Linked DNA regions of Homo sapiens: region 2 is linked to region 1. The links come from fine-mapping of genetic effects on gene expression. A gene starts in region 1. The other region holds a variant in brackets. All regions are shown on one strand. Distances are between the middles of the regions.

Region 1 (17,190 bases):
ATCCCTCAATAAATGTTAGCTATTATCATTAAAAAAAATTGTGTGTGTGTGTGTACAGTAGGGTTAAAACCTCAGAAACAGTCCAGTACCAAGCTGATATTAATTGGACTGAGGGATTTTGAAAATGACCGAAAGGTCTCAGGGTCAGACGTTCCAGAATGGACTAAAGTTCATCTTTTCATGACCACAGCATATTTACTCAGTAGGGTCAAAAGTTGTCAACTCAAAACCAGTTAGTGGGTTACTGCCCTGGAGACCTGGGTCCTGACAGCAGGCAGGGAAACTGCAGTCCTGCAATCCAGCTGGATGGGGTAAAATCCTTTACTTTTCCCTGGGGTGGATAAGAAGCTGTGGGAAGCCAAATAGCATCTGTGAACTTGGGCACGGATGGGACTGATTGCCAGCTAGCTCCCTGCCCCAAAGTGCTGGGGATCACACAGCAGAGTCCACAGCACCACTGGGCACCCATGACAGAGCTCTGCAGCCCTGGAGATCACATTGGATTGCTCATTTTACGATGAAAGAATTGTTGGTCAGGCAAATGACTTGTTCCATCCTGACTAGATGCTAATCTAGCCCAGGCATGGCTAAAGGTGGCCTACTGTGAAACAACTGGGTTCTTATCTGAAGTTAGGCAACCCATGAAACTGGGTATTTTTTTTAAATGGAAAAATAATTTGCACATTTGAAGACATATGTGGAAGATGCACCAGTGCTTGAAGTTGTGCCCCCGTTTCCATGGCACCTGTTTGGATTCCTACCTGTCACACAGGTCTTGACAACTGTATCTTACGAGTTCAACCTTGGTTATGCTTCTGTTCAGTGTTAAAGGGCCTTTCAAATTTGCTCTCTGCAGATTAGAGCTTACTAGGTTCCTGGTGTAAGCCAACTGCTGGTGCTAACACTCAGAATTTTTAAATTCTAAAAACGTAAGTCTAAAGCATGATATAGGCTGGCACGGTGACTCACACTTGTAATTCCAGCATTTTGGGAGGCCAAGGTGGGTGGATCACCTGAGGTCAGGAGTTCGAGACCAGCTTGGCCAAAATGGCGAAACCCCATCTCTACTAAAAATACAGAAATGAGCTGGGCAAGGTGGTGCATGCCTGTAATCCCAGCTACTCAGGAGGCTGAGGCTGGGAGGTGGAGATTGCAGGGAGCTGAGATCGTGCCACTGCACTCCAGCCTGCGTAACAGGACGAGACTCCGTCTCAAAAAAAAAAAAAAGTATGATATAAATTTTGAGCAAGTAGACATGGATCACATCACCCTGCCTGGCTATAGGCTACTCCAAGGGAGAGATGTTATTTTCAGCTGATATTAGGGGAAGGAGAGGGAAGGGACATGGAGAGGACCTGCAGGGGTTCTTTCACAGGAAATACTCCACCTAACCCACATGTATGTGAGTTAGCTATGACCTGGTTGTAGACGTATTTGTTCTTGAGCGAAGGACACATGAGGGGACAATCCCATGGCAAAGGAAATGAAAAGTTTGAACAGTCTCTCATTTAGAATGTGTCTTTGCAAATACACATTTCTCCTTTCAACCACATCAAAAAGGTTAAGGGCTACCTGTTTTGGGTATGAAGGTGCCTGAAGCTCAGGAAAGAAAAAGTTAAATATATTCATGAAAACAACTTAGCACATTAGGGTTAAGACTTCAAGCTTCTCCTTTAAGGAGGAAGTGTATTTTACATCTCATTAAGCAACAGAGAAAGTATGACAACAGAATTTTTAAAGCTGATCATTTTCACAAATTGCCTTGATACATGAATAACAAAGTTTGATCATTTCTTAAAAATGAGATAGAAGCCCAAAGTAAAGATTGTGATTCTGATAGCAGAAGACTCAAGTACTTTTAAAAGGCTTGTTCAGACACTAATTTCTGAAATGTAATCTGTGAGGAATGCTGTCAAAGACTTTGATTGCAAAAGAAAATTCTCATGAGTCATAACGAGTTATCTAACTTTTTCTGGTTGTTCCTCTTAAATGAGAGATTACCAGTGATGTATATTTCTAAAAGTTTGTAATAGCCACATCTATAGAGGCGATTTTTCACTCTTATTTTACTTTATTTTTTTGTGCAATGTCCCCAAGTTTCCTGAAGTGCACATGAAATTTAAAGAGACAGGATGAGAGAAATCTAGGAACAATGTACCTGGTAAATGGCCTCATCACAGGCATTTTGCAGACCGAGGTTGATCATGGTGTTCTGTAATGTTCGGCCCATGTAAAATTCCAGAGAGAGGTAATATACCCTCTGAAATAAAGAAAAGAGAGATAATGTTTCCCCCAAGAGATCAACCTCACTTAACATAAAAACACAAGGTCATGTGTTAGGTCACCAATAAGAAACAAACAGGCAGGACTATGTCACCACAGGTTCGAATGAGACTCCCGTCAGAGGTGTTTGAACCAAAGTGACTCCATCTTGAATAGGAGCTGGGTAAAATAAGGCTGAGACCTACTGGGCTGCATTCTCAGAACGTTTGGCATTCTAAGTCACAGGATGAAATAGGAGGTCTGCACAAGATACAGGTCACAGAAACCTTGCTGATAAAAGGTTTTCTTTGCCTCCTTTTTAATGATTCCAAATTAGCATGGACTTAAGATATTTAAAAATATTTCAAAATCTTTTCTTTTTTTATTTTAAAGACAAAGTCTTGCTCTGTCACCAGGCTGAAGTGCAATGGTCCAATATCAGCTCACTGCAACCTCTACCTCCTGGGTTCAAGAGATTGTCCTGCCTCAGCCTCCTGAGGAGCTGGGACTACAGGCATGCGCCACCATGCCCAGCTAATTTTTCTATTTTTAGTAGAGATGGGGTTTACTCCATGTTGGTCAGGCTGGTCTCGAACTCCTGACCTCAGGTGATCCGCCCACCTCGGCCTCCCAAAGTGCTGAGATTAGAGGCGCGAGCCACTGCGCCCGGCCCCTTTACTTTCTTAATAAACTTGCTTTCACTTTACTCTATGAATTTGCCTCAAATTCTTGTGCGAGATCCAAGAACCCTCTCTTGGAGTCTGGGATGGTGACTCCTTTCTGCTAACACTCCTATAGAGATGTATGAAGGACTAAATAAAAGTGTTACTGACAACAGGTTTTGGCAAAGCACTATTTTTGGCGAAGTAATTCAGTATTTTTTACCCCCGGGGAGAAAAAAAGCAAACTCATCTAAGTAGATTCAATGTTTTGTGTTTTTTCCCTCTCCTGATCATGAACCTCATGAATAAAGCATAGGTTTTGGACAAACAGAAGTCAGACGGCCATAGCTCACCATTCATTAATAAAATATTTATAGGGCACCTTGGTGGGTGCCGGTAAGCTGAGTTGGCTATGACTATCTCAAGTCATCCAAGAAACACAAAGATTAACTCCCACACACCGCATGGGTAGAAAATATTCCTCCTTGGCTGATTACTGTAAGAAATTTTACAGTTTAATTAATTAATTAATTTATTTATTTATTGATGGATTGATTGAGACACAGTCTCCCTCTGTCGGCCAGGCTGGAGTGCAGTGGCGCAATCTCAGCTCACTGCAACCTCTGTCTCCTAGTTCAAGCAATTCTCCTTCAGCCTCCTGAGTAGCTGAGACTACAGGCGCCTGCCACCATGCCCAGCTAATTTTTGTATTTTTAGTAGAAACAAGGTTTTGCCATGTTGGCCAGCCTGGTCTTGAACTCCTAACCTCAGGTGATCTGCCTGCCTTGGCCTCCCAAAGTGCTGGGATTACAGGCGTGAGCCAAGCGCCCGGCCTACAATTAATTTTAGAATCAAATTTTTCTATAAAGTCTATTTACTGGCAAGTTCCTTATGAACAAGAAGACTACCTAAGGTTTATTGGTGTTTGTTCTTATTGAAATTGGAAATTTCTCTATTGACTTAGACATTATTTGCCTTTGACATGGTAAAAGTCAGGCAAATATCATCAGAGTTGAAGGTGAGAGGTACAAAGTTCAGACCTGCTGAAAACCTTCTTTATATACAGCACAGTTTACTAATTAAAAAAAAAAAGCACCAGTGAGTAACTTCATTGCCCCCTTTTACAATATCTTATTCTCCAATCATCTATCCTCTCTTCTCTACTAGACACAAAACAAAATGGCAAAAATCTGTAAATGCACCAATATAGTTACCTCAAATTTTAGGGATTGCCCCATTTCCATAAGATAAGAAGTAAAAAAAGAAAAAATAATAATTTGGCCAATCAAAAAAAATTGTGAGTAGAATTCAGTATAATAAAGGCGTATTATCATATTTAACATACTAGTTACACATAAATATTTAAAACAAAATATTATTTGAAAACGTCAACTTGGAAATTTCATTCTTTCCCATTTTCCTTTTATGAACAATTGAGTTCTAAATTTCACAACAAATGGTCAACATCCATGACCTAACGGGCCACCTAACACTGCTTTCCAGAACACATCATCTTCGTTTTCATCCAAGTTGTTTGAATGTCTATAATGCTGTTACTAGAACCCTCACCAGCTATTAGATACCTTCGAATGATTGGATAAAAGTACCTTCTCTGGGGCAGACATAGGCAATGGCTGGTGCTCTAGTACGTGATGACCGCTGTCACAGGTAATAGTATCTTAAGCCACAAATACCCATTTGCATAGTATTACCCAGTTTAAAAAAATCCTTCCATGTGTGTATTTTCATTATCTCTATAACCATGATGTTTTGCCTTTTTCTTTTAAGTAATCTACAAAAAGCTTGTTTATATAGTATATATTCCACACTTGCAATTGTGAGGTTATACCCCCAGGAATAATGACTACATCTGTATTAAATTTGCCTCCTTTTTAATGATTCCACATTAGCACGAACTTAAGTCTTCTTAAAAATATTTCAAAGTCTCTCTTGAGAGATATGTGGTTGCTCAGAATAAAGTAAATGAGAAAATACTTCCTTGCATGACAGACTTTATAAGGACAGGAACGTAAGGTGATTCCCTGTTTTCTCACAAATAACTTCTTAGAGGTAATCTCTCCTTATATTTGGGAATATATAAGACTTCAAAAAATAGATCTTGGCCATACTCTTACTTACTGGTCTCTAAATATTTGTTACATATGACTGATAGTAAAATATATGAGCATCTCCAATATACTTTATAAATTACATGCATGTACTATGATTACTAGTATTTTATGTAAAAAGTGGATATTTTCAAAAGGCTTGTAAAATAAAATAAAGAAGATATAACAAATATTTTTAAATTGTATGTTTTATTTTTATCCCCAGCATTAGTCAGAGGGCCTGGGTACTTCCGGGAAGACCTCTGGAACACCTGTCAATAAACCTGAGACTTGCAGGACAGGCAAGAGTTGAGCATAGAAATGTGGTAGGAAGGACACTGCAAGTGAATCGGGGGCCCAGAGTGGGGATTGGTTTGTTGGGAGAGCAAGGTGGGTACAGAGGGTAATGGAAGATAACAAGGGAAGAACAGGCCCACCTGGACTGAGAAGTGCTTTCGAATACTTGCTTAAGTTCTATGGCAGGCAAGAGGAGCCAATGATAATTGAGCAGGGGCAAGATGCGTTGCTTTAGGAAGCTTGAGCAGACCACAATGCACAGAATGAGACGGGATCATATACTCAAATGCCTTCAGGAGCTAGGCAGAGAAAATAAATGTGTAATTGAGGTCACATAAAACAAAGAAGAGTACTGGGCTAAGAAATGGAGTGTGCAAGTCCTGACCACAGGCGCTAAAAATTAAATTCCTGAAAAATGTCTTGGCCAACAAAGTATGTCTGCTATCCTTATTCAGCCTCAGGCTGCCGGTTTTACCACTTCTGGAAAGCAAAATAACCACGTGAAGTCAGCTGCAACAAATGGGTAGCTAGAGCCTCACCAAGGCAGGAAGAGATAATGGAGGAGAGCACGTCATTCAAGGGAACCTATAGAAATCAACAGAAATTGGCAAACAGTTGAACGGCAAAAAGTGAGACTAAAGTTTGCGTCTGGATTGTCAAGATGACAATGGCATGAAAACAAAAAACACAGAGGCCAGTCGTGGTGGCTCATGCCTGTAATCCCAGCACTTTGGGAGGCCGAGGTGGGTGGATCACCAGGTCAGGAGTTCGAGACCAGCCTGTCCAAATGGTGGAATCCTGTCGCTACTAAAAATACAAAAAGTAGCTGGGCATGGTGGCATGCACCTGTAATCCCAGCTACTCAGGAGGCTAAGGCAGGAGAATCACTTGAACCCGAGAGGCAGAGGTTGCAGTGAGCCGAGATTGCATCATTGCACTCCAACATGGGTGACAGAGTGAGACTCTGTCACAAAACAAAACAAAACACGGGAAGATGGGGCAGGATTGGGAGAAATAATGGTTTGAGTTTTTAACGTACTGAGTTTGAGGAAATAGGAAGATATCTAGATATGTTCACTAAACACTCAGAAATGTACGCATAGAGTTAGAAAAGGAATTCAGACTAGGGATCCATATTTGGGATTCATCTGCACAGTTATTGGAGAGCAAGGGAGGTGGGAGAGGAGCTTGGACACACCTACTTGCTCTACTTTATGAGGGCAGGAACCATCCTGTTTAGACAGACGACTGTGATGGAGTAGATATTTGATGAACACGTGTGGAATGAAACATGTTCATTGTTGTATCCCCAGTGTATCGCTATCAGAATTTACACACGTCGGAATTCCTGGCTTATATCTGCACTCACGTAGAAAAGGAGAGCCCAGTGAAGAAACTGGCCGGAGAACCAGGAAAACCATAAAGCACTGCATAAGCCACTGAAGGAAAAACATACAAGATTCTCTGGTGCTCTATGATGCTAAATGCTACAGAGGCGTGAGTGTGTGTTTCTAATATATGCTCAGTGTCCCACCCTTCCGCTTAAAATTGTTAAAAATAATTTTTAATGAGAGGCGCAGTATGGTGTACTTAGTAGCATTCCCTTTGTGTAAATAAATTTTTAAAAGATAGTGGCCGAGTGTGGTGGCTCACACCTGTAATCCCAGCACTTTGGGAGGCCAAGGAAGGAGGATCATTTGAGGCCAGGAGTTTGAGAGCAGCCTGGCCAACATGGTGAAACCTTGTCTCTACTAAAAATACAAACTTAGCCAGGTGTAGTGGTAGGAGCCTGTAGTCCCAGCTACTCGAGAGTCTGAGGCAGGAGAATCGCTTCAACCCTGGAGGCGAAGGATGCAGTGAGCCAAGATGGCGCCGCTGCACTTCATTCAGCCTGGGCGAGAGTGAGACTCTGTCTCAAACAAAACAAAACAAAACAAAACAAAACAAAACAACAAAACAGTAAATATATGTATACATAAAGTGTTTTCTAAGGTGCATTTAAATTTTTAAGGATACATTTTAGCAGTTGCTACCTTGGTGGAGGCCTAGGTCTTTGGGGTGAAGAAGAGTTACTTTCCATTTGAAAACTGTTACAGTTGCAATTTCTTACTATGAGAATTTACATTCATTTCCTTTCTTAAAAATTCCTATGGGGTTTCTTGGGCACTGGGATTATAGACCATTTTTTTTTCTTCACACCTTTACATAATTAAAAAGTTCTAATAAATGTTTATATATATTTCCCACTGCCCCTGGGATGTATCCCAATCTTTTATTCTTTCCAATATGTCTCTACCTGGCTTCTCCAGTTTCCTCTCCCAATACAGACTCACACCCGCCCTCACTCCAGCCTGCACACAATCCCTCTCCCTGCCATGTCCTCCCCAGTCCTTCCCCACTGCCTCTCGCCCTCTTCGCAAACTGTCAGGCAGAGATATTGTCCCTCTGTAGGTCCAAAATCACCCTAAGGAGGTCTCTGCTCCCGCCCCCACGCCGTGGATGGAGGTGGTCCCTGACCAGCCTTCCTCAGCAGCTCTGGGGGCAGGCCTCGGGTGTGGAAGGGCTAAGGGTCGGGGGAGTGTGTGTCTTCGGGGAGGACGAGTCCAGGGCATTGCCTGGCCCTGGGCCGCCTTTGCGAAAGACTCACGGAATTCCAGGAGCTACACCCACTCAGGAGAATGGGTGGGCGGCGCTCTACGCTTGGAGCGGGACCCTGCCCCTCCTCTGCACCACACTTAGCCACTCCCAGAGGCCTGAGACTTACGACCTTTTCCCAGCTCGGCGTTTGTCTCCCCTCCCAAAATACCAAGCTCCAGCAAGGCAAGATTTTTGTCCCTTTTGTTTAGGGCTGAGTGTCCAGGGCAGAGAATAGTGTCCGGCATACAGGACAAGAGGCCCCCGTCACCTCTTGATTAAATGCTGAGAGTCAAAGTTCCAAAAAAGTTTGTGAAGTGGACAGGCGAGAGGGGCCTGGGCTTTTGCCCACCTGGCGGTTTCCAGGGGCGGACGGCACAGTGGTTTGGGCGGGACACTGGCGGGTGGCACCTCGGAGACATGAGTTCGGCGTCTGTTGGGAGGCCTAATCTGTCCCCCAGGCTGCCCGCCCACAGCCTAGACACGTCTCCTCTGGACTTCGGGGCAAGGACCGGGTGCAAGGGACCACTCTGAGGGGTTCTCCACCTCGTCCCGCCCGGCCGCGGCCGGAGACTCCGACTCCGGGCTGGACCCCGGCCCGCCGTCCCGCCCCCGGTTACCTTGGGGCACTTGTCGTAGTAGTGCTGCTGCGTGCGGATCCAGCGCCCCACCAGGTGGTCGCGCACCGTGTGCGCCAGCGCGAAGTAGTAGTCGCGGGTGGTGGCCACGTTGCGGTCCTTGACCAGCGTGAAGTGCAGGTGCCGGTTGAAACTCTTCTTCAGCTCTGCCACGTTCTCCACGCCCACGATGCCGCGGATGCTGATCTGCCGCCGCTTCTCCTGGTCCGTCAGGGGCTTCGCCATGGCTGGGGCGGCGGGCTGCGCGGCGGGCTGCGCAGAGAGCTGGAAGTGCGGCCGGAGGCGCTGGGCTGCCGGGCAGGGGTGGAGTCCGCCCCGCCGCGCCAGCAGCTTTCAACGCGCACGAAAGTTTGGGGCCCGCCCCCTCGGGCGGTGCCGTCCCCGCTGCACTCCCACCGCGTCCCGGCCCCTGCCCCAGGCCGGAGGGCAGAGGAAGTGCCCGGCCCCTCCCGAGGCTCTGGGGCCGCAGTGGGCTCGGGGGTGGGAGACGAGGTCCAAGCGCCGGCGAGACCCCTGCCAGCCCGGGACCTGGGCTCGGAGGCTCCCTTCCGGATTTCCAAAATCTGCGGAGGCAGCATTTGTTCCGCCTCTCCCCTCTAGAGTGTGGAGACAGGAGGACGTCTGTGTAGGGAAGCACGTCGTTGGCAGACTGCTGTTTTGCCGATGTTTATTTGTTATGCCATTATGACTGTTAGGATTTCTCACCTGGAGTGGCTTCCGCCATAAGCGCCGGGATCTGGAAGGACGGCACGTTTGACTTCTGTTGTCCCAACCTCACTTGCCAGCCCTTGGCACCGCCCCAGCTTGGATCCTCAGGGCGCCTCTGTTATTTTCATTCATTTTTTTTGAGGACTCCAGGGTTCAGGTTTCTTAACTCCTGGACCAAAGTTCGCCCCGCTCGTAGCACCCTGTCTCTCATCCTTAGAGGTAGGTTACTAAGAATCAGAGTAGGTGAGGTGAAGCTCTAGGGTCATTATGCGGCAGGGGCTTTTACCTTAGGCTTCTTCGAATTACGTTTTAACTGCAGTGGAGGGTGTGGGGGGAGGAGAGGGAGAAAACAGAAGGGTATGTGTGTGGAAAATGAAGGGATTACTCACTGGACTAGTTGCCTTCTTTACAAAAAACAACCCAGTCTGTGTTACTGTGCGGTACAGGCTGATCTTTGCACCTCCACTTTGGGTGGTATTTGAATATGCGTGTTTATGTGTGCTTAAACCTTGGTAAAGGCAAACACTTGGCATTTTAGGATGTCAGAGGTTTTTTCTTCCTCATTAAGTAGTATTAATATATTATTTTAGAAACAGTCCATTGCCAGAATTAAGTTTTCTTTTTCCTTTTTCTTTTCTTTTTCTTTCTTCTTCTTCTTTTTTTTTTTTTTTTGAGACGGAGTCTCACTCTGTTGCCCAGGCTGGAGTGCAGTGGCGCGATCTCGGCTCACTGCAAGCTCCGCCTCCCGGGTTCACGCCATTCTCCTGCTTCAGCCTCCTGAATAGCTGGGACTACAGGCGCCCGCCACCTCGCATTTTTTATTTTTTATTTTTTTATTTTTAGTAGAGACAGGGTTTCACCATGTTAGCCAGGATGGTCTCTATCTCCTGACCTCGTGATCTGCCCGCCTCGGCCTCCCAAAGGGCTGGGATTACAGGCGTGAGCCACCGCGCCCGGCCAATAGTCACATATATTCTTCTAAGTTTATTTGTTTGTTGTTTTTTGAGACAGGGTCTCACTCTGTTACCCAGGCAGAGTGCAGTGGCGCGATCTGGGCTCACTGCAAGCTCCGCCTCCCGGGTTCACGCCATTCTCCCGCCTCAGCCTCCCGAGTAGCTGGGACTACAGGCGCCCGCCACCACGCCCGGCTAATTTTTTGTATTTTTAGTACAGATGGGGTTTCACCGTGTTAGCCAGGATGGTCTCGATCTCCTGACCTTGTGATCCGCCCTCCTCGGTCTCCCAAAGTGCTGGGATTACAGGCGTGAGCCACCGCGCCCGGCCAAGTTTTCTAGAAAAATCTTAGTATACTTATATTAATATATTTTGTTTTTTATAATAAACCCAAGTTGATTATTTTGAATTCACACATGGTGGTGGTGGGGGGGGGGGGGGGGGCGGGTAATGGATTAATTGATTCAGACCAAATGTGACCCTCACCATAAAAGTGAAAGTTCAAAGCTCATAGTTCTGACAAAATTTCCTGAATCCTTGTCCTCCCAGATTCTGAAGTTTGGACTTGAGCTTTTGGGGCAGAGACTGAATTGGGCCTTATGCAACTCTTGCAATACCGATGACCTGCAAAGGACAGTATGGAAGAGATGAGCATTAGAGTTTGGATCCGGATGGGGCCAGAAATACCCTGAATTAAGAGTGGGAAGGGGGGGCCCATCAAAATCATTGATCTTAAAAATAAGTAAGGCCTGTGGGGTGAAATTTGAAATAAAGCAGAAAGATAAGCTTCTTTGATTATTATATAACTTAAAAAAGTGTTTATCAGCTTTGAATACCCCCAAGATGGTCACAGCATTAAGCCAGTTATGGGTCATTCGTACATAAGTGTGAAATTAGTCACTCAGCTTTAACAGCTGGATGAAAAATAGGGTAGAGCCTAGGATGAGGGAATACCAGGTCTGAGTAGGTCTTCCTCCCAGAAAGGTCTCTGAGCAGGAGAAGGCATCATAATGTCTGGGCATTGGGGAGTGAATAATTAGGGGGCACACAAGAAGGGATGAAAGACACCAAAAGCAAGCTTACTCGGTTTCTTAGTTTTGCTTAAGACAGTTTCAAATAGATGGCTCCCAGCTCCGCTGTCTACTTTCCTGTACTAAATTCTTGTTGGAAACTCAGGGTAATGATGAACTAATGAACACACTATTTTCTTGATTCACTATCCAGTCGGTGAGCCTGCACCCCCGGCTTGAACAATTCTCTATGCAGAAAAATCATGAACTATAGAATGCTCAATATATAGAGTATGGGGAAAAACTATCCATCTCCATGTTAAAAAGAACGTGATGGAACCAGGTGATTTAGGGTGTTCCATAGACCCAGTCTTAAACGACAATGAATTACATTGCAAGACAGTTATTCCCCTTTCACTTTTCTTTAAGTCTTTCTGGAAAGTCCTTTGTGTTAACATGTTAGCATTTTTTAATCTATATTTTTAACAGAATGCAGGTACAGACTCTAAAAGTTCTTGAAGTTTTAGCATCTAACTAGAATTTAATACAATTATCTTCCATTTATGGTAAATGATACTTTTTCAGTTGACATTCTGATATAAACTTTGTTTCATCTGCTTGTTCTGTGCTAGTCTAGGACACTGAGGCCTTGAGAGGTTAAGTTACTTGACTAAGAAAATTAATATCTTTAAAAACCTTTCCTTTAGCCTCTCTTGACCAGAAAGAACCAGAAACTATGGATCCCTGAAAAAGTATCAGATTTCAGTGGCTCACATGTTTATAGCAGCCTTACTCACAATGGCCTATATTATTCCTGCTTCTCATCCACTGCTTCCCCGTGGCTGCTGTAACGAAATGGCGTTTGTAAGTAGCTGAACAAACAGTCCAGAACTCATAGGACAAGTGTAAGTTTCCCACTGTTGGAAATACAAAAAAACATGAGAAAGTAGTGTGTTAGTTCGGGTCTTCAGAGAAGCAGAAGCTAAAACAGGATTAAACATGTTAAGATTTTTTACTGGGGTAAATGCTTGTGGGAGGGAAAAACGGGGAGTGCTAGCCAGAGAGAGCATCAGACTGTGATGCCAGTGTGACCTAGAGTGAAGGGGAGAGAGAGGGAAGGGTAGAAGGGCATATCTCAGACAGCCCTGTAGTCCCAGGAAGATCCAGCAGTGCTGCTGGGCAGTTCTGGAGGGCATCTGCTGTCAGGAGTCCACGGTACTCTGCTCGGTCATTGGTGGGATCATCCTCCCGGAGGCATGGCCTCTGCAGGGCTATCTGGAGCCCTGGGTCGGTTATGCTTCCTGCAGCTTGGGGCATCTATGAGGTCCTTTCTAGTGACCACCACAGAAAGATATGAGATAAACAAATACAGATTAATACCCACTATGTTTCAAAGCAGGGCCTATTGTGGTGGCATACCACTTTCAGATTATCAAAACGGCAACTAGCATTTTCCAAGGACTCTGGCAAGGCCCATAATGTGCATTACTCATTTAATCTTCTCATCAGCTCTGTGGGACAAGTTCTGTTTTTCTTTCCATTTCACAGATGAGGAAATCGAGGCTTAGAGAAGGTGAGTAGCTTGCTCAAGATCACCTCACCAGTAAGTGATGGAAGAGGTTTTCAAATCCCTTAATGTTGTTTCTCCTCCCCTGAAACAGGATTTGTGATCTGTTAAGTAAACCTGAATTCTGACTGCATCTCAGCTAACCTATTACCCTACTCACTTGTTTTGTTTTGTTTGTTTTTTTTTGAGGCGGAATCTCGCTCTTGTCACCCAGGCTGGAGTGCAATGGCGCCATCTTGGCTCAGTGCAACTTTTGCCTCCCAGGTTCAAGTGATTCTCCTGCCCCACCCTCTTGAATAGCTGGGATTACAGACGTGCGCCACCATGCCTGGCTAGATTTTGTATTTTTAGTAGAGAGGGGGGTTTCACCATGCTGGTCAGGCTGGTCTCAGACTCCTGACCTCAGGTAATTCACCCGTCTCGGCCTCCCAAAGTACTGGGATTATAGGCGTGAGCCACCGCGCCCGGCCTGTTTTGTACTGTTTATTGGTTTTTGACCATCTTCTAATCAGTTCTGCAATCTAGGGAAATGCCAGAGGTCCACAGTGGCCCCACAGACAGGTCACTAACACTCTGGAAAGGGGTGGTGTAAACCATGGGCTGAGCTTTATGCTCAATGAGGGAATTTGAGTACACTGCACTCAGCATATTTAATGTATGAATCTGTTAACCAAGGTTGTTATCCAGGCTCCGCTGTTTCAAATATTTAGAAAGATGACTGAGGGCCAGGTGCGGTGGCTCACACCTGTAATCCCAGCACTTTGGGAGGCCGAGGTGGGTGGATCACGAGGTCAGGAGATCGAGACCATCCTGGCTAACATGGTGAAACCCCGTCTCTACTAAAAAATACAAAAACAATTAGCCAAGCGTGATGGCGGGTGCCTGTAGTCCTAGCTACTTGGGAGGCTGAGGCAGGAGAATGGCGTGAACCCAGGAGGCGGAGCTTGCAGTGAGCTGAGATCGCCACACTGCACTCCCAGCCTGGGTGACAGAGCGAGTCAATTCTGAGCCAAAAGAACAAAGCTGGAGGCATCACACTACCTGACTTCAAACTATACTACAAGGCTACAGTAACCAAAACAGCATGGTACTGGTACCAAAACAGAGATATAGATCAATGGAACAGAACAGAGCCCTCAGAAATAACGCCGCATATCTACAACTATCTGATCTTTGACAAACCTGAGAAAAACAAGCAATGGGGAAAGGATTCCCTATTTAATAAATGGTGCTGGGAAAACTGGCTAGCCATATGTAGAAAGCTGAAACTGGATCTCTTCCTTACACCTTGTACAAAAATCAATTCAAGATGGATTAAAGACTTAAACGTTAGACCTAAAACCATAAAAACCCTAGAAGAAAACCTAGGCATTACCATTCAGGACACAGGCATGGGCAAGGACTTCATGTCTAAAACACCAAAAGCAATGGCAACAAAAGCCAAAATTGACAAATGGGATCTAATTAAACTAAAGAGCTTCTGCACAGCAAAAGAAACTACCATCAGAGTGAACAGGCAGCCTACAAAATGGGAGAACATTTTCGCAACCTACTCATCTGACAAAGGGCTAATATCCAGAATCTACAATGAACTCAAACAAATTTACAAGAAAAAAACAAACAACCCCATCAAAAAGTGGGCAAAGGACATGAACAGACACTTCTCAAAAGAAGACATGAATAAATGCTCACCATCACTGGCCATCAGAGAAATGCAAATCAAAACCACAATGAGATACCATTTCACACCAGTTAGAATGGCAATCATTACAAAGTCAGGAAACAACAGGTGCTGGAGAGGATGTGGAGAAATAGGAACATTTTTACACTGTTGGTGGGACTGTAAACTAGTTCAACCATTGTGGAAGTCAGTGTGGCGATTCCTCAGGGATCTAGAACTACAAATACCATTTGACCCAGCCATCCCATTACTGGGTATATACCCAAAGGACTATAAATCATGCTGCTATAAAGACACATGTACATGTATGTTTATTGCGGCATTATTCACAATAGCAAAGTCTTGGAACCAACCCAAATGTCCAACAATGATAGACTGGATTAAGAAAATGTGGCACATATACACCATGGAATACTATGCAGCCATAAAAAATGATGAGTTCATATCCTTTGTAGGGACATGGATGAAATTGGAAATCATCATTCTCAGTAAACTATCGCAAGAACAAAAAACCAAACACCGCATATTCTCACTCATAGGTGGGAATTGAACAATAAGAACACATAGACACAGGAAGGGGAACATCACACTCTGGGGACTGTTGTGGGGTGGGGGAAGTGGGGAGGGATAGCATTGGGAGATATATCTAATGCTAGATGACAAGTTAGTGGGTGCAGTGCACCAGCATGGCACATGTATACATATGTAACTAACCTGCACATTGTGCACATGTACCCTAAAACTTAAAGTATAATAATAATAAATAAATAAAAAGAAAAAGAAAAAAAGGAAAAGAAAAGGAAAGATGACTGAGAACCCAGATTTATTTTACTTTTGAATTCCCTTAGTGTCTGCAGACAATGCAGCTGACTGCATTGCCATCTCTATAATTGGCTGTGACAGTGACCATTTACTCGTTACCTGAGTATATTTGGCTTGTCTTGAAACAAGCGGATGTTCCTGACACTTTCAGGTCCTGTCATATTTGATTTGCTCATTGATACAGTAGTTTGAATTCTTAGGCATAGTCCAGTGGGAGTTCCTGAAAAGATGGAAATACTTCCAGCCTGTCTTCTTCCTCTCCCTCAAATCACTGACAGCCTTCATATGCCTATTGTGGAATATGCTGAGATTGCAGAATCACTTAGTGCCTTGATTTCAACTTCTGCAAAGTAAGGACAAAGATCTCTGTCCTTCTCAGTCCATAAAATGGCTAAGTTCGGCTGGGTGCGGTGGCTCACGCCTGTTATCCCAGCACTTTGGGAGGCCAAAGCAGGTGAATCACGAGGTCAGGAGTTCGAGACCAGCTTGGCCAACATGGTGAAACCCCATCTCTACTAAAAATACAAAAAATTCGCTGGGCATAGTGGCGGGCGCCTGTAATCCCAGCTACTCGGGAGGCTGAGGCAGGAGAATCGCTTGTACCCTGGAGACGGAGGTTGCAGTGAGCTGAGATCGCACCACTTACTCCAACCCAGGCAACAAAGTGAGACTCTGTCTCAAAAAAAAAAAAAAAAAAAAAGATGGCTAAGCTCAAAAGAGATATGAGTGGAGAAGTGCCAGGAAATGGTAAAAGCATTATTAAGATGGAAACTTCTGGGTTGGGATTATATTTTGACATATTAACCAGTGTTTTGATTTTCTCCTGATGGTTTACTTTTTCCCTATCTCCCTTGGGGAGCTGCTGTAGCACTTGAGGTGCTTATAATCTCTGAGGAAGATGTGAGCCTTCCTGGTTTTGAACTCCAAATTAACATTCAGGAGACACATTAAGAGTGAGGGCAAGGGTCTGAGGAAAGTGGGGCAGTAATGAGAAGATGACATGGAGGTGTGGGGAGTAGAGACATCACTGGTCTTGGAGTCAGGATCCTGGAGCTGGCTTCCTTGATCAGGTAGCAGAAATCCCAGGCAGGCTGAGTATCTGAGAAGTGCCCAGGACTTTGCTCTGCTTCCTGAGAAGAGCCCAGCGAGGAAGTGACTGCCTGGAGGGTCTCAGTAGTCAGGGCTTGGACAAGGTTCACAAAGGCTCCTCATCCCCAGGGAGGCGCAGGGCAGCCATTGACCAAATCCCCAGCGCTGAAGACTGATTCAGAGAATACCCAAGGGAGAGGTATCAAGGCTAGAGCCTTCTCTCCACTGGCTACTGCCACCAGGGCCTTAGCACAGGGAACCCCTGCTGAGGGGTCCTCAGTTGAATAGACTGGTTGACTGAATTTGAGATCAAATTTCTTCCCTGGAGGAATGAGAGCTTACATTAGAAGTTAAACTGAAACTGTTACAGGCCAGGGCAAGGTGGTTCACAGCTGTAATCCCAGCAATTTGGGAGGCTGAGGCCAGTGGATTGCTTGAGGCCAGGAGTTTGAGACGACCCTTGGCAACAGGGCAAAACCCCATCTCTACTAAAAATACAAAAATTATCTGGGTATGGTGGTGCACGCCTGTAGTTCTAGCTATTTGGGAAGCTGAGGCATGAGAATCACTTGAATCTGGGAGGCAGAGGTTGTAGTGAGCCGAGATGGTGCCACTGCACTCACTCTAGCCTGGCAACAGAATAAGACTCTACCTCAAAAAAACAAAACAAGAAAAAGCAGTTAAACTAATACAAAAAATATAAAGCTGCATGTCAGGCCTCTGAGCCTAAGCTAAGCCATCATATCCCCAGTGACCCG
Region 2 (13,822 bases), 20 kb before region 1:
GGAGCCAAACTTGGAGGCTTTGAAACGGCGGATGATATCTTGCAAGGTTGCAGCCACCACAAAGTATTCCTGCTTCAATCTTAGCTCCTTCCCTTCAAAAAACTTCAAGCCAGAGAGATAGAATAAAAATGGTTCATATTGTAGGTGTGGCCAAAATGTGACTGGTGTCTCCTGCACTAGGAACTTTAAGACTAAGGCCCATTGGACATCTGCTGAGGGGTGGTGGTTTGAATGCCAAACTGTGAGCCTTTGCTCTTTCCTGAGACCCCATGAAAATGGCAGTGAAAGGATTCTCTAAAGGCATACAGATAAAAGATAAAGAGGTTGGGATAAAGACAATAGCAACAACCTTTTAGAGGCTGAAAAACAGATGCATGAGTGGTAAGTGATTCAGAAGATCCAAGACAGCCAAATCCTGACCTGGTAGTGGGGAAAAGCCAAAAAGCAACTCAGTGTGTACATTGGAGCTCCCCAAGGCTCAGGAATTGGTAGTACCAAGTACTGGGAAGCAGGGAAGAAGTGAAGGAAAAGGTTAATGACAGCCTGAGGACACTTGGCCTCCAACCTTATCCCCAGTTCCTGCAGCTGAGCACAACCAGCACATGACCGCCCTCCTGCTGGCAGGCAACGTATCAGGAAGCACTGGCAGCCATGGACCGTGTGGAGAACCACAACTAGCTGAGAATGCCCTACATGACTGCGAGACAGGATTGCAGCCAGGCCATGGTGTGCAGGGTGGAGGCCTTAGAGGCCATGATGGTGGCCAGCTTCCAAGTTCCTCCCACATAGATTTGCTGTCGGTCACCTCAACCGTGTAAATGTCACCAAGAAATGGTCCTAACCCTGAGCCATCACACTTCGATTTTTATAGATCATGGAGCTGCCCTGTCTTTACCTGGTCGTAGAATTAAAAACTGTAACTTCTATTAAAAATGTGAGCCTTGACTAATATCCAGAATCTACAAGGAACTCAAACAAATCAGCAAGAAAAAAAAATCCCATGAAAAAGTGGCAAAGGACATGAATAGACAATTCTCAAAAGAAGATATATGAACAGCCAACAAACACATGAAAAAATGCTCAATATCACTAATTGTCAGGGAGATGCAAATTAAAATCACAATGAGATACCACCTTACTCCTGCAAGAATGGCCATAATTAAAAAGTCAAAAAACAATAGGTGTTGGCATGGATGTGGTGAAAAGGGAACACTTTTTACACTGCTGGTGGGAATATAAATTAGTACAGCTACTATGTTAAACAGCATGGAGATTCCTTAAAGAACTAAAAGTAGAACTACCATTTGATCCAGCAATCCCACTACTGGATATCTAGCCAAAGGAAAAGAAGTCATTATGTGAAAAAGACACATGTACACACACACGTTTATAGCAGCACAATTCGCAATTACAAAGATGTGGAATCAGTCTAGGCGCCCATCAACCAACAACAATATGTGGTATATATATACCATGGAATACTACTCAGACATAAAAAGGAACAAAATAATGTCTTTTGCAGCAACTTGGATGAAGCTGGAAGCTATTATTCTAAGTGAAGTAACTCAGGAATGGAAAACCGAATATCGTGTGTTCTCACTTGTAAGTGGGAGCTAAGCTATGAGGATGCAAAGGCATGAGAATGATGTAACGGACTTTGGGGACTTGAGGGATAAAAGACAATTTATTGGGTGTACACTGCTCAGGTGACAGGTGCGTAAAATCTCAGAAATTACCACTAAAGAACTTATCCATGTAACCAAAACTACCTGTACCCCTAAAACTATTAAAATTAAAAATTTTAAAATGATGAGCACCCCATCCCCCAAATGTAAGCCTTGGACCAGAGTCTTATTAAAACTAATGAATATGAGCATAGAGGTCTGCATATAGAATATCTGGGGCTCTGAACTCCCTAATACTTAAAAGTATAATCACTGACCTATGCCAGGGCTATGGCCAAGTTGAGGAGAAGAATGAATTTGTTATTGTAATTACAGTATAAAAGGATTTTTCAGCTTACTCTTAAAAACAAACAAACAAACAAACAAACAAAAACATGATCCTGAGAACTCCCTTTTACCCAACAAATCTAGTCAATTTTTTACCCCATGCTAACTTAGTATATATTGTCAGTTACTGCAGACGATTATTTCCCAGTAAAATTAGTTTTGGTCCTTACTGAAGACAGGAGGATGAATTTCAAGCCCCTGCAGACTGGGTTTAGGTTGGCAGTACGGTCCCAGACTTGGAAGAACTCTTACTTTGACCCTGACATAGAATAACTTTTTGCTTTTGGGTTAGAGATTTCTCTGAAATGTACTGAAGCCACAATGTTTTCCACAAAGGAATAATAGCATATACCATTAGGTTCCTAAAAATGCTCCAGCAAAATCCACATAATCATCTTCCTTTCTGAGAGATTATGATTTAACACCAGGTGGACATCTGGTATTAAGGACTATTTATGTCCTAGTCCCCCCAAGATCCTTGTCTTCTGCCATCTTTGTAAAGCAGAGTGCTAATTTTATTGCTTCTGAGACCACTTTAAAAAAATCATTACAGCTTCATGAAAATGATTTTACCCATAGAGAAGTTTAGAGTTACATATATTTAAAACAACCAAGAATCAATAGCAGTTATCTGAGATCCAGTTCCAAGTGGTGTGTGTGTGTGTGTGTGTGTGTGTGTGTGTTTTGAGAGAGTCTCACTCTGTCACCTAGGCTGGAATGCAGTGGTGCAATCTCGGCTCACTGCAATCTCTGTCTCCCAGGCTCAAGCGATTTTCCTGCCTCAGCCTCTCCAGTAGCTGGGATTACAGGCGCCTACCATCACACCTGGCTAATTTTTTTGTATTTTTAGTAGGGACAGGGTTTCGTCATGTTGGCCAGGCTGGTCTCGAACTTCTGGCCTCAAATGATTTGCCCGCCTCAGACTCCCAAAGTGCTGGGATTACAGGCATGAGCCATTGCACCTGGCCCCAAGTGTTTTTTTTTTTTAACTAAGCTATATTTACAATAAAATTAGAATAATTGACTATAAGAAAAAGATACAAGTCAGTGGCAGAAGAAACAGATGTTTGTTCATGGGTCTGCCCCAGGGTCTCTAACTCCATCTAGCATCAGGGCAGAGGACCAGAAAGAGCCTAGTCAGTGAGAGAAGAGGCGAGGCAGAAAATATTCAGTGACTTCTGACTTTGCAGATAAAATTTCTATCTGGAAAGGAGGCAGTGCTTCACCAGTGATTTACTTCATCTCTTATATCCAGGTTTTGTTTTAAAATACATCTCAATAACTTCCCAATTAGTGATGGGGTCACTAATCAAGGGCAAAATACCAATTCTGATTTCATGCACTATACAGATTTGTTTTCCTTACTTGGTTGGGAGGAGAAATCTACACAATTCAGGAAGAAATACGGAGCTTGTTCTGCACATGGAAAAACATCAATATTAAATGTGTTTTATAGGTTACTGAACAGGCTCTTGTGAAATAAGCTGCCTCTGTTGCCACTAAGAAAGCAACCTTGATCACTCACATTGTCATTGGGATAGAGGACCCGGGAGATGTTCTCGGCCAGGTTTCGGTCCAGCACAGCCTGAATGTAGTCTCCAACATTAACTAGGGGAAAGTTAGAGAAACAATAAATAGAGAAACCAGCCATTGTTGTTGGAAACCTCTTGATCTCACTGGCTCTGTGCTGTGTGTCATGTGGGATTCCTAAAATTCCTAAAAATCCCAAAGGATTTCAACACACCGTCATGCTGGACTTCACATGAGAATTGCTTTAAAAATGCCCTCCCTACTTCCTCCATACAATGCCTGCTTAGTCAGTGAAGTTCAGATCAGAAACTCAAGGCTTTTTTGTTTGTTTCAAGCTCAATTTGGTTCTAACTACCAATCAAAAAGATTAAGCACACGCATAAAGAAACCAAGGCCTGTGCTGTACTCACAGTCTCTGAGGTTAAAGTCATTTGGTGCCCGAGCAGACCAGAGGCGCATGGTGTTGACAGTGTTATTCATGTAGCCGGGCACGGGGGTGTCATATGGCAGAGCCAGGACCACCTGTGGGATTAAACAGAAGCAGCTGCTCATTGTTTCCCAAGTGTGATGACATAGGTTGAACAAGGGGCTGGGAGACTGCAATGGAATTCTATTCCTGGCTCCATTACCAACTTAAATTGTGTGAGGCCTAAATGGAGAAGAGGGTCTCAGGGCTGCAGAGGGTATTAGAGGAACATGTGGTTCCTCCCCGACCTGGTACAATCTAGTGACTGAAACCATCCACACTGATGGTCCTTTACAGTATTTCTATGTTGACTCTCCATGTGCCCTTGCCCTGATATAAATGCAGTGGAATGGAATGATATGGTATTTGTATTCAAAAAAGTTTATCTTTTTTTTTTTTTGAGACGGAGTCTCACTCTGTTGCCCAGGCTGGAGTGCAGTGGTGCAATCTCGGCTCACTGCAAGTTCACACCATTCTCCTGCCTCAGCCTCCCGAGTAGCTGGGACTACAGGTGCCCGCCACCATGCCCGGCTAATTTTTTTGTATTTTTAGTAGAGACGAGGTTTCACCGTGTTAGCCAGGATGGTTTCGATCTCCTGACCTCGTGATCCATCCACCTCGGCCTCCCAAAGTGCTGGGATTACAGGCGTGAGCCACTGCACCCAGCCAAAAAAGTTTATCTTTCATGTTTCAGATAAAGCCATTGCTCTAATAATAATAAAATATGATATGCAAACAAAGTGACATTGTGAATCTGTACCCACCAAAAAATAGCACTTAGAATATGTTTTGCATAGGTTTTTCAGTGATCTGATTTCAAGTATGATGAAAG[T/A]AAATGGAATAGGAAATTTATGAAGCTATAACATCTCATATAATATTTAAAATGCTATGCTAGATTTTTAAAGTTGCATAAGGAGTTATTTTAGTGATTCCTACAGTGATCTGCCAAATCAGCTGATAATTAGCTGAGTTGAGTCTAAGAGGTAAGCTTTGGAAAATCTAGCTTGATCTTTGTGACAGTCACTGAAATAGAGAAGAGGAAGATTAACTATGTTTCACAGTGCATCGAAAATTCAAGTGAGAAATCATTCATTTTTATTCCCGGCCTCATCAGAGTCAAGCTCGAAGGAAGGAGAATGACAGAATAATTGAACTGGAGGATGCTGGATCTCATTTAGTGCAACCCACTTATTTTGGACATGAGGGAGCTGAAGCTGAGAGAGAAGTGACTTGCCCAAGATCACAGTCATGGCAGGATTGAAACTTAAACACGCATCTCTTTAATTTGGTCTGCTGAATTGTGAATGAATGAAGCATTATGGCCCATATCAATCACATATACTCAGTCATACTTTCGTGATCACCGCGACCTCAAAGTAATAAATCACCCTCATTTAAATATCTTTCATTAAGAGATAAAAGTCTCTGGACTTTTAAAGCAAGTTGTAATCAATCAGGGAAAGTCATTTGCAGGCTGGGATTGAGTCTCGGTTCAAACAAGAGTTGGACCCTTCTGACCCTTGAAGCATAATTAAGGCAGCCCAAGAAGTGCACAGCTTAGATCTTCTTTCAGAGAACCTCAAAGAGGACTTGCTCCCTCAGAGCTCACACCAAAGCTGCGCTCTCTGGGACACTCCATGTGGCTGGGACACTAGGGCCGAGACTTCTCTAATGGGCAATCTTTAGTGTCAGGCTCCATCAGCCTGGCCACTTGCTCAGAGTGGCACTGTGGTCTGAGGCTCTCCCTGAGAATGCTGCTTCTTTCCCCTTCACTTTTCACAGGTGGCACACCTGTGTCACAGTCTGAAGCCTTCCCACCTCATCCTGCTCCCTCTCCCCTTTGTCTTTCATAGGCATCCCCCAATATGTCACTTGCACTTCTCATTCTCTCTGGTGTCTGTTTCCTAGAGGACCTAAACTGACACGTGACTGTGTCATTTGACTTTATTGGAAGCCATCCCATGCACGCACAGAGCACATCTGGACTCATGCTCTGACATCACTGGGTACCAGTTTGGGGTTAATTCATGTGATGACTTCAATCTATGAGGCTAAGTTGCATGGCTTGGGCCAGCTCACTTATATTACCTCTGCCCCCTAACCTTGCCTCTGTTGGCCCAGAAACACACACTCTCTCTAATTGAATTTCTGGATACATTATGACAGTATCTAGAGGTGTTTTGTAAATGCAAGTTAGCTCAGCAGTGGGACCCACAGTGTAAATAAAATGCTTCCAGGATTGATTGTGTAAACTGCAAACTTTTATTTTTATTTTATTTTATTTTATTTTTTTTGAGACAGAGTCTCACTCTGTTACCCAGGCTGGAGTGCAGCGACATGATCTCAGCTCACTGCAACCTCCACCTCCTAGGTTCAAGCGATTCTCCTGCCTCAGCCTCCCATGTAGCTGGGACTATAGGCATGGGCCACCACTCCTGGCTAATTTTCGTATTTTTAGTACAGATAGGGATTCACCATGTTGGCCAGGCTGGTCTTGAACTCCTGACCTCAGGTGATCTGCCCGCTTCGGCTTCCCAAAGTGCTGGGATTACAGTTGTGAGCCACTGCACCCAGCCAGGAATGACATTTCAAATTATTCAATTTTGCTATCAACACCTTAATATAAAACCAAAGAGGTAAGCATGCTGGTTACTATAGAACTGACAATTTTCTGGCAAAAAAAAAAAAAAAAAAAAAAGAACTGACAATTTTCTGACAAAGCTGGTTGCAAAATGACCCTTATAAAAGTCACTCCTCTCTTGGCCTCAGCTCCTTTGTCTCCAAAATGACTGGGCTGCGCTAAGAGAAGTAACAGATTTATTTACAAAAATATATTCTATTATTCAAAACACGACATGCCCTATACTCAATATCACCACTATATGCTACATAGTCAATGTATTATCTACTGTACTAAATACTATACAAAACGCTGGCTATACGAGCACTCTGAATACTTGAGTGTCAATCCACTTGGTCCCGGTGTTGGTGTGTTCTACTTTTCCATAGAAGTGCACAGGCAGCATGAATTCTGGGCGGGACTTCTCCCAAGGGTTTCCATATCTGAGCCAATCATCTGCTTCTTCTACCTGCAAAAGGATACAGTATTGCTTAGAATTTATTTGTCAGGAAATATGAACCTAGCACTTCAATTATATTATATTAAATTTAAAACATCTTTAACTGAAACAACTTATGAATACTGAGTACTGTTTTGTAACTTTTTTACAGCCTACATCAACAATAATACTCGCTAATACAGCTCTAAATATTTTATATGTATTACTGCATTTAATCCTCTTTTAAAGATGAGGAATTGTAACTGCTCAAGGTCAAATAGTAAACGGTAGAGATAAGATCTCAAGGTCAAACAGTAAACGATAGAGATAAGATCTGCCCTTAGGTCTCTGTGTTCCAGAGCCTCTGTCTTAACGTCTGTGAATCCAATTGTCCAGCTTCAGCTAAAGACAGACGCCTTACAGGGATGTTTATCGTTGGATACCTGGGCCTGTTGAGTCCTACACAAAGGGTTCAGTCAAGATTCTTGTGGCTAGAATATACAGAATCAGTTAGAAAATGCTACTTACAGAACACTCTTTTAATCAAGCTTATTGGTATAGGTACAGAACATTATTGCATTATGTAGTCTTTGCTTATCTCAATCCTTATGTAATTTTGATTTGATAATGAACTATAGATTATAGTTTATTTTGAAAATAACATATTCCAAGAGGTAATGAACTTATTTTATTGACAATTTCAATATTTTCCTAGGTATTTATGTCAATTTATAACAAAATATTTCTTATATACGATTTTAAACTATGGTTTCTATTTAGGATATCCTGGACATCAAATACATTTTCATTTGCAACAAACAAACAAACACATCAAAATAAGAACACCACCACCACCAAACACATTGGAGGGGGATGTATTTTTAAATTATTGAAACCTTTAAAATATGACACATACAGTTGTGGATTGCTTAACGACAGGGATACATTCTGAAAAATGTGTTCTTAAGCAACGTTGTCATTGTGCAAACATCACAGAGTGCACTTACACAAACCCAGATGGTGCTGCCTACTACACACCTGAGCTATATGGTATGGCCTCCTGCTCCTAGACTACAAACCTGTACAGCACGTTACTGTGCTGAATACTATAGGTAATGGTAACACGATGGTGTTTGTATATCTAAACATAGAAATAGTACAGTAAAAATTCAGTATAAAACATAAGAAATGGTACACCCACAGGGGGCAGCTCCATTACCATCTTATGGGACCACTATTGCATATGTGTTGTATTGTTGACTGAAATGTCATTATGTGGTGCATGACTATACATTAAAAAATGGAATTGTGTTCTGGCCAGAAGGGGGTAAACAAAGCAGCTTTGTCAATGAGATAATCTCCAATATGGTTATTTTACCTATTTGATACCTCATATTCACCTCTTAGAAAACTCAGCTTTAGTTTTAGAAGATACTGCTTAAGAATTACAACACAATGTTGGACATCTCATGATCACCTAAACATGAGTGTAATGCCTGTCTCAGGAACAGTGTGAAGAGACAAAAATAAACACAGCCACTATCTTTTGAGAATTTAGACTAACCATTATTGTCAACAGCCAGAGAAATGAATACAAGTTCACTTATTCAAATTTTGATAGTGTTGTTTATCAAGAAAGCCAGTAAGCTTCCCACTAATATTAACTACCAGTGTAATGATGAATGGAAATGGGACTCATAGCAACAACATCTTTAGTTGGAAGAGCTAGGAGTTAGAGAGCCACTGGAGGAAGGAGGAGGTATCAGATGCAAGATGAACCCTAGGGAAGGCTGGAGAGAGATCTGAGCTCGTCAGAAAGTCACATCTTCTTAAAATGCAGATTCTCAGTAGGTCTGGGGAGGGGCCTGAAATTCTGCATTCCTAATAAGCTCCCAGGGGCTCCTGATTCTACTGGTCCCTGAACCCCACAAAGAGCAGCCAAGAGCTACAAGGCAATGCAAAGTCAATAACTGTAATCTGTAATTCAGAATTAAAAACTAAACTTCCGCTATCCCAGTCATAAGAGAACAAAGATAAAATTTTTTTGAGGCAGGAAGGTCACTTGATCCCAGGAGTTTGAGAGCAGCCTGGGCAACATAGTGAGAACCTATCTCTAAAAAAAATTTAAAAATTAGCCGAGTGTGGTGGTGTGCACCTGTAGTCCCAGCTACTCAGGAAGCTGAGGTGGGAGGATTGCTTGAGCCCGGGAGGTCAGGGCTACAGTGAGCTGTGATCATGCCACTGTACTCCACCCTGGGTGACAGAGTGAGACTCCATCTCAAAAAATAAAGTAAAATAAAATAAAATAAAATTTTAATAAAGAAACAGTTGAAGTTTGCCAGTTGTCAAGAAGCTTGTTAAAGAGTCCATTAACTTGGCCAGGCGTGGTGGCAACGCCTGTAATCCCAGCACTTTGGGAGGCCGAGGTGGGCTGATCATGAGGTCAGGAGTTTGAGACCAGCCTGGCCAACATGGTGAAACCCCGTCTCTACTAAAAATATGAAAATTAGCCGGGCATGGTGGCGGGCACCTGTAATCCCAGCTACTCAGGAGGCTGAGGCAAAAGAATCACTTGAACCTGGGAGGCAGAGGTTGCAGAGAGCAGAGATTGTGCCACTGCACTCCAGCCTGGGAGACAGAGTGAGACTCTGTCTCAAAAAAAAAAAAAAAAAAAAAAAAAAAAGAAAAAGTCCATTAACTTGGGTTCATAACTAGAAATGCTATAATAAATAAAATGATGACATCAACAAAGGATCAAAACATCTTGACTTACAAAATACTTTATGCTGCACTTAGGCAAGGGCCAATTTTGGGTTTTAAAATACTGAGCAATGTGAACACTGCTTCCTGTAACAGGAAAGAACCATAGGCCTGTTTGCCTCATTTCAGCATGCAGGGCTGTTGTAAAACCCATCTGAAGGTATTGTATGAAATAGGAAGACGATGAGGCAGAAACAGTTTTCCTCTGAAAACTCATGACCATGGGAGAACTGATGACATATTTTTTTGCTGAGAAATGCAGCAGGATGATATACTGTCCTGCCCCCAAGAAGCCTGAAATGCTCAGATAAGAGAGGATGGGCACTGAACTTCCTCCTGTGGGCTCAGTCCCTGACTCCTGTGGAAGTCAGAGGTTGCATTTACTCTTTTTATTTTTATTTTCATTTTCTTTGAGACACAGTTTTGCTCTGTCGCCCAGGCTGGAGTCCAGTGGCACAATCTTGGCTCACTGCAACATATGCCTCCCAGATTCAAGTGATTCTCCTGCCTCAGCCTCCCAAGTACCTGGGATTACAGGTGCCCGCCACCACACACAACTAATTTTTGTATTTTTAGTAGAGACGGGGTTTCACCATGTTGACCAGGCTGATCTTGAACTCCTGACCTCAAGTGATCTGCCTGCCTCGGCCTCCTAAAGTGCTGGGATTACAGGCGTGAGCCACCACGATAAGCCACATTTGCTCTTTTGAGGGTACACTCTTACATGAGATTCTTAATGCCATCAAATGTTGGTTGAATTTTTTTCCTGCCAAGTAAATGATTGGTTTTAGCTTCATGGGGCTAACAACTCGTAGGAGAGTTTATTTGCTTGCTGTTCTTTATTGTGAATCTCCCGCTGATTCAATAAAGAATTGGTGAATAATTCTATCAATTTTATAAGGCTTGTTTTTAAGGTAGATTGAGAAACAAGCGTTTCATAACAAGTTGACCTGAGTAGATCTGAGGAGGAGAGAACTATCCCTTGCTGCCTCCACTAAATCTACAGAAGCTGCAAGATGGTGATAAACCTTCTCTCTACCTTGCTTTCTTCCAATGAATTGACAAATTGATCTGTAAATTTAGGTTTCCATGTAGCCAGTGATCCCCAAATGCACTAACATGCCAATCATATGAAGGGGTAGGGGTGGGGGGCCAAGGTGGGAGAACTTTCATCTACATCCAAGTGAGCTGTCAGAGCTGTTTCATCCCAGAGGCTGCACGGGGCTGAAGAAAGCAAGCGTGGATCTGTGGAGTAAAAGAGCCAACCTGGGTGCAGGTGGCAGCTGGACTAGGCATTTCTTTAGAGGAATGACTCAATGGAATCTGTCCCAGCCAGCAGGGATGGAGAGGTCAGCCCAGGGGACTCTGTTGACTGAATTCTAAGAAATGCTCTTCTCTGCACCTGTGGGATACAGAGTCGACAAAGAACCAGTGAACAGTCATCAGGAGAGCCCATGAACTTGGCTTTCTGATGTTATAATAACTGATAAATGTTTCTGTGGCACACCAAGAATTCCACAGTGATAATTAGAAGCTTGCTGGGTAATGTGAATCACGCATGACTGGCTATTACGAACTTGGTGTGGGTGCTAAGAGGCAAGAGAAGGGTTGCAGAAGCCACTTGGATCCAGCTCCGAGATACATACTGTGAGTGCCTTTCCACCCAGGGCTTTGGTGTGATTGTGAAACTTCTGTGAGGTTGTTGCAATTGTCTTTCTCCCCACTTCCTCCTAGGCCAGCTATTTTCATAGAGGACTGTTACTGCACTCCCCATGAGAGGAGATGGTAAATATAGAATTTTAGCAACACAATTTCAGGGGGTGCACGATGAACACTCCACGCCTGCAAATCTTCCTTGAAGAGACTCAAAAATTAAAAGCCCATCAACCTTTAAAAATCTTCCCAGCATGTGGAATTTTCATCAGCCTTCTCCAAATCTGCCTTTGTAAGAACAGTGTTACGTGTTGAGTGGGGGCATGACTATACTCTGAAAAGGCCTGCTGCTTTCTTGACAGATGCATTTTGCTTTTTATGGAAATAATTTCTTTTTTATGGTATGATATATTTTATGTTTGACGGTTAAAATCCCATCCCAGTAAACAATGGAGGTGGTAAGTAAAATTATATACCCTTCTGATTCAATTTCAAGTCATAATGAAAGAAGTGATGATGGTTGATAAGGTTAGCTTTGGAATTTATTTTCTTTTATCTTATTTTATTTTATTTTATTTTATTTTTGAGACAGGGTCTCACTCACTTGCCCAGACTGGTGTGCAGTGGCACTATCTCAGCTCATTGCAACCTCCATCTCCCAGGCTTAAGTGATTCTCCTGCCTCAGCCCCCAAGTAGCTGGGATTACATGCACGCGCCACTATCTCCTGGCCAATTTTTGTATTTTTAGTAGAGACTGGGGGTTTCACCATGTTGGCTAGGCTGGTCTCGAACTCCTGACCTCAAATGATCCACCCACCTCGGCCTCCCAAAGTGCTGGGATTACAGGCGTGAGCCACTGCACCTGGCCAGCTTTGCAATATTTTGAATGAGCAAAACCTATTTGGTCTTTCTTTATTTTTCTTTTTAAAGAACACTGGAATACATGCTTTCTTGGTCTGATAGGAGAGAAAGAGATAGTTTCCTGGAACAAAGATCATTTAAAAAGAGCAAAGGTAGGTGTGATAACAGTGACCCTTCATAAAACGTAAGGGGAAAATATACCTGAGACAAAAAAAAAATTGAGATTTGTTTTCTGAGTTTCTTTTAAATCTTCCATCTGATAATAGTTAAGAGATAAGAAATGAGATCCTTGGAAATTCTGGAGTATAGTGAGTAGCGCATGGTATCCTTTTCCAAGGCTAAAATTAGATACCATGTGTTGTTTGGTTAGGTTGTGTCAAAGTGTTGGTTGTCCTGGACATGCCTGCTAAATAGGCTCTCAACATGGAACTCTAGGTTACTCCATTGGGGAGAGGAACAACCTATTTCATTTTTATAACTTTTAATGATTACAAAATACACATTATTTATGGAATCTAAAACATGTAGAAGAGTAAATAGAAGATAGTATATATATTTCTTACAGAAAATGAGATATGTAGAAGAGTACATAGAAGACAGTAAAAGTTGCCCATCTTCCAGAGACAACTTCTGTTGAAGCTTTGATGTATTTTTTTCTAGCACTTTTCCTTTATCTTTCTGGCCTTCTCTGGATAGCTGAGGTTTTATTACCCTTATAACTCTATATCCTCTACTTATAGGTAACACAATGATTTCCTATTTTGTTAAAATTAATTAAAAATATAATATGAATGGCTTCACTAATATTTTATTATAGAATAGCACAATTTATTAAAGCATCCTCCTTTTCTTAGGCAAAATTAGCATTTTATTGTGTGCTTACTAATATTAGCATTTTATTGTGTGCCAGATATTTTACATGTTTTTATAATAATTCTGTAGAGTTTGTATCTCCATTTTGCCATTGAGAAAACTGAGGTTCAGGGAAGTTTGGTAACCTAGTTGAGACAGCATACCTCATAAAAGTAATCAGGTCTCCTAAGTTGACATTAGGTCTCAAATGAGAAATTAGGACCCAGGCTTCTCTTCTACAAGATGCTGCCTCTCAGCTTTTATTTATTTGGGGGTAGCTAAAGATAAACAGCTCTGGTCCTTAGCAAAATGTGGAAGTTTGTCTTCCACTCTATCCCTAATATTCTCCTGAGTCTTTTTCCTTGGCACATTCTCTCATCAAACCAAATTTTTTAGTTCCTCCCTTTTTTGGTTCACAAAGAATCCAAATACTGAGGGAGGGGAAAGAGGGCAGTGGTGACACTAAACTCATTCTCATAGGGTTATCTTCCTTTATCCTGGCACAGCCTAGGTCTCTGCATCCAGTCCCTGAGCGTTCTCTTGTTGGACTCATCTCATAAGTGTGGGAAAGGCTCAGAGAGCTCAAGTTTTTTGGAAACTGAAGATATATATTTCTGTCAATGGTGTA

The links. PIP is the estimated chance that this variant, and not a neighbour inherited with it, causes the effect.
Region 2: its variant is the best candidate, but not a certain one, in a credible set for the expression of PYGL in sun-exposed skin (GTEx, PIP 0.83).

The regions. Positions count from the first base shown.
Region 1 is chr14:50,935,578-50,952,767 of GRCh38, forward strand. PYGL (glycogen phosphorylase L) reads right to left here and starts at 8,906. Exons shown (of 20, transcript NM_002863.5): 1 at 8,584-8,906; 2 at 2,159-2,260. The coding sequence starts at 8,826. LOC124903314 (a long non-coding RNA gene) reads right to left here and starts at 7,013. Exons shown (of 2, transcript XR_007064163.1): 1 at 6,532-7,013; 2 at 5,224-5,628. LOC400212 (a long non-coding RNA gene) reads right to left here. Exons shown (of 4, transcript NR_170195.1): 3 at 12,071-12,190; 4 at 10,713-10,887. RefSeq lists an enhancer at 7,734-8,257 and a silencer at 8,926-9,085.
Region 2 is chr14:50,917,004-50,930,825 of GRCh38, forward strand. PYGL (glycogen phosphorylase L) reads right to left here. Exons shown (of 20, transcript NM_002863.5): 5 at 6,966-7,097; 6 at 3,953-4,064; 7 at 3,538-3,620; 8 at 1-102. It also overlaps the pseudogene MRPL57P9. Among named protein-coding and RNA genes, the nearest start is that of PYGL, 21 kb to the right of the region's middle. The variant T/A (reference allele first, on the strand shown) is at 4,841.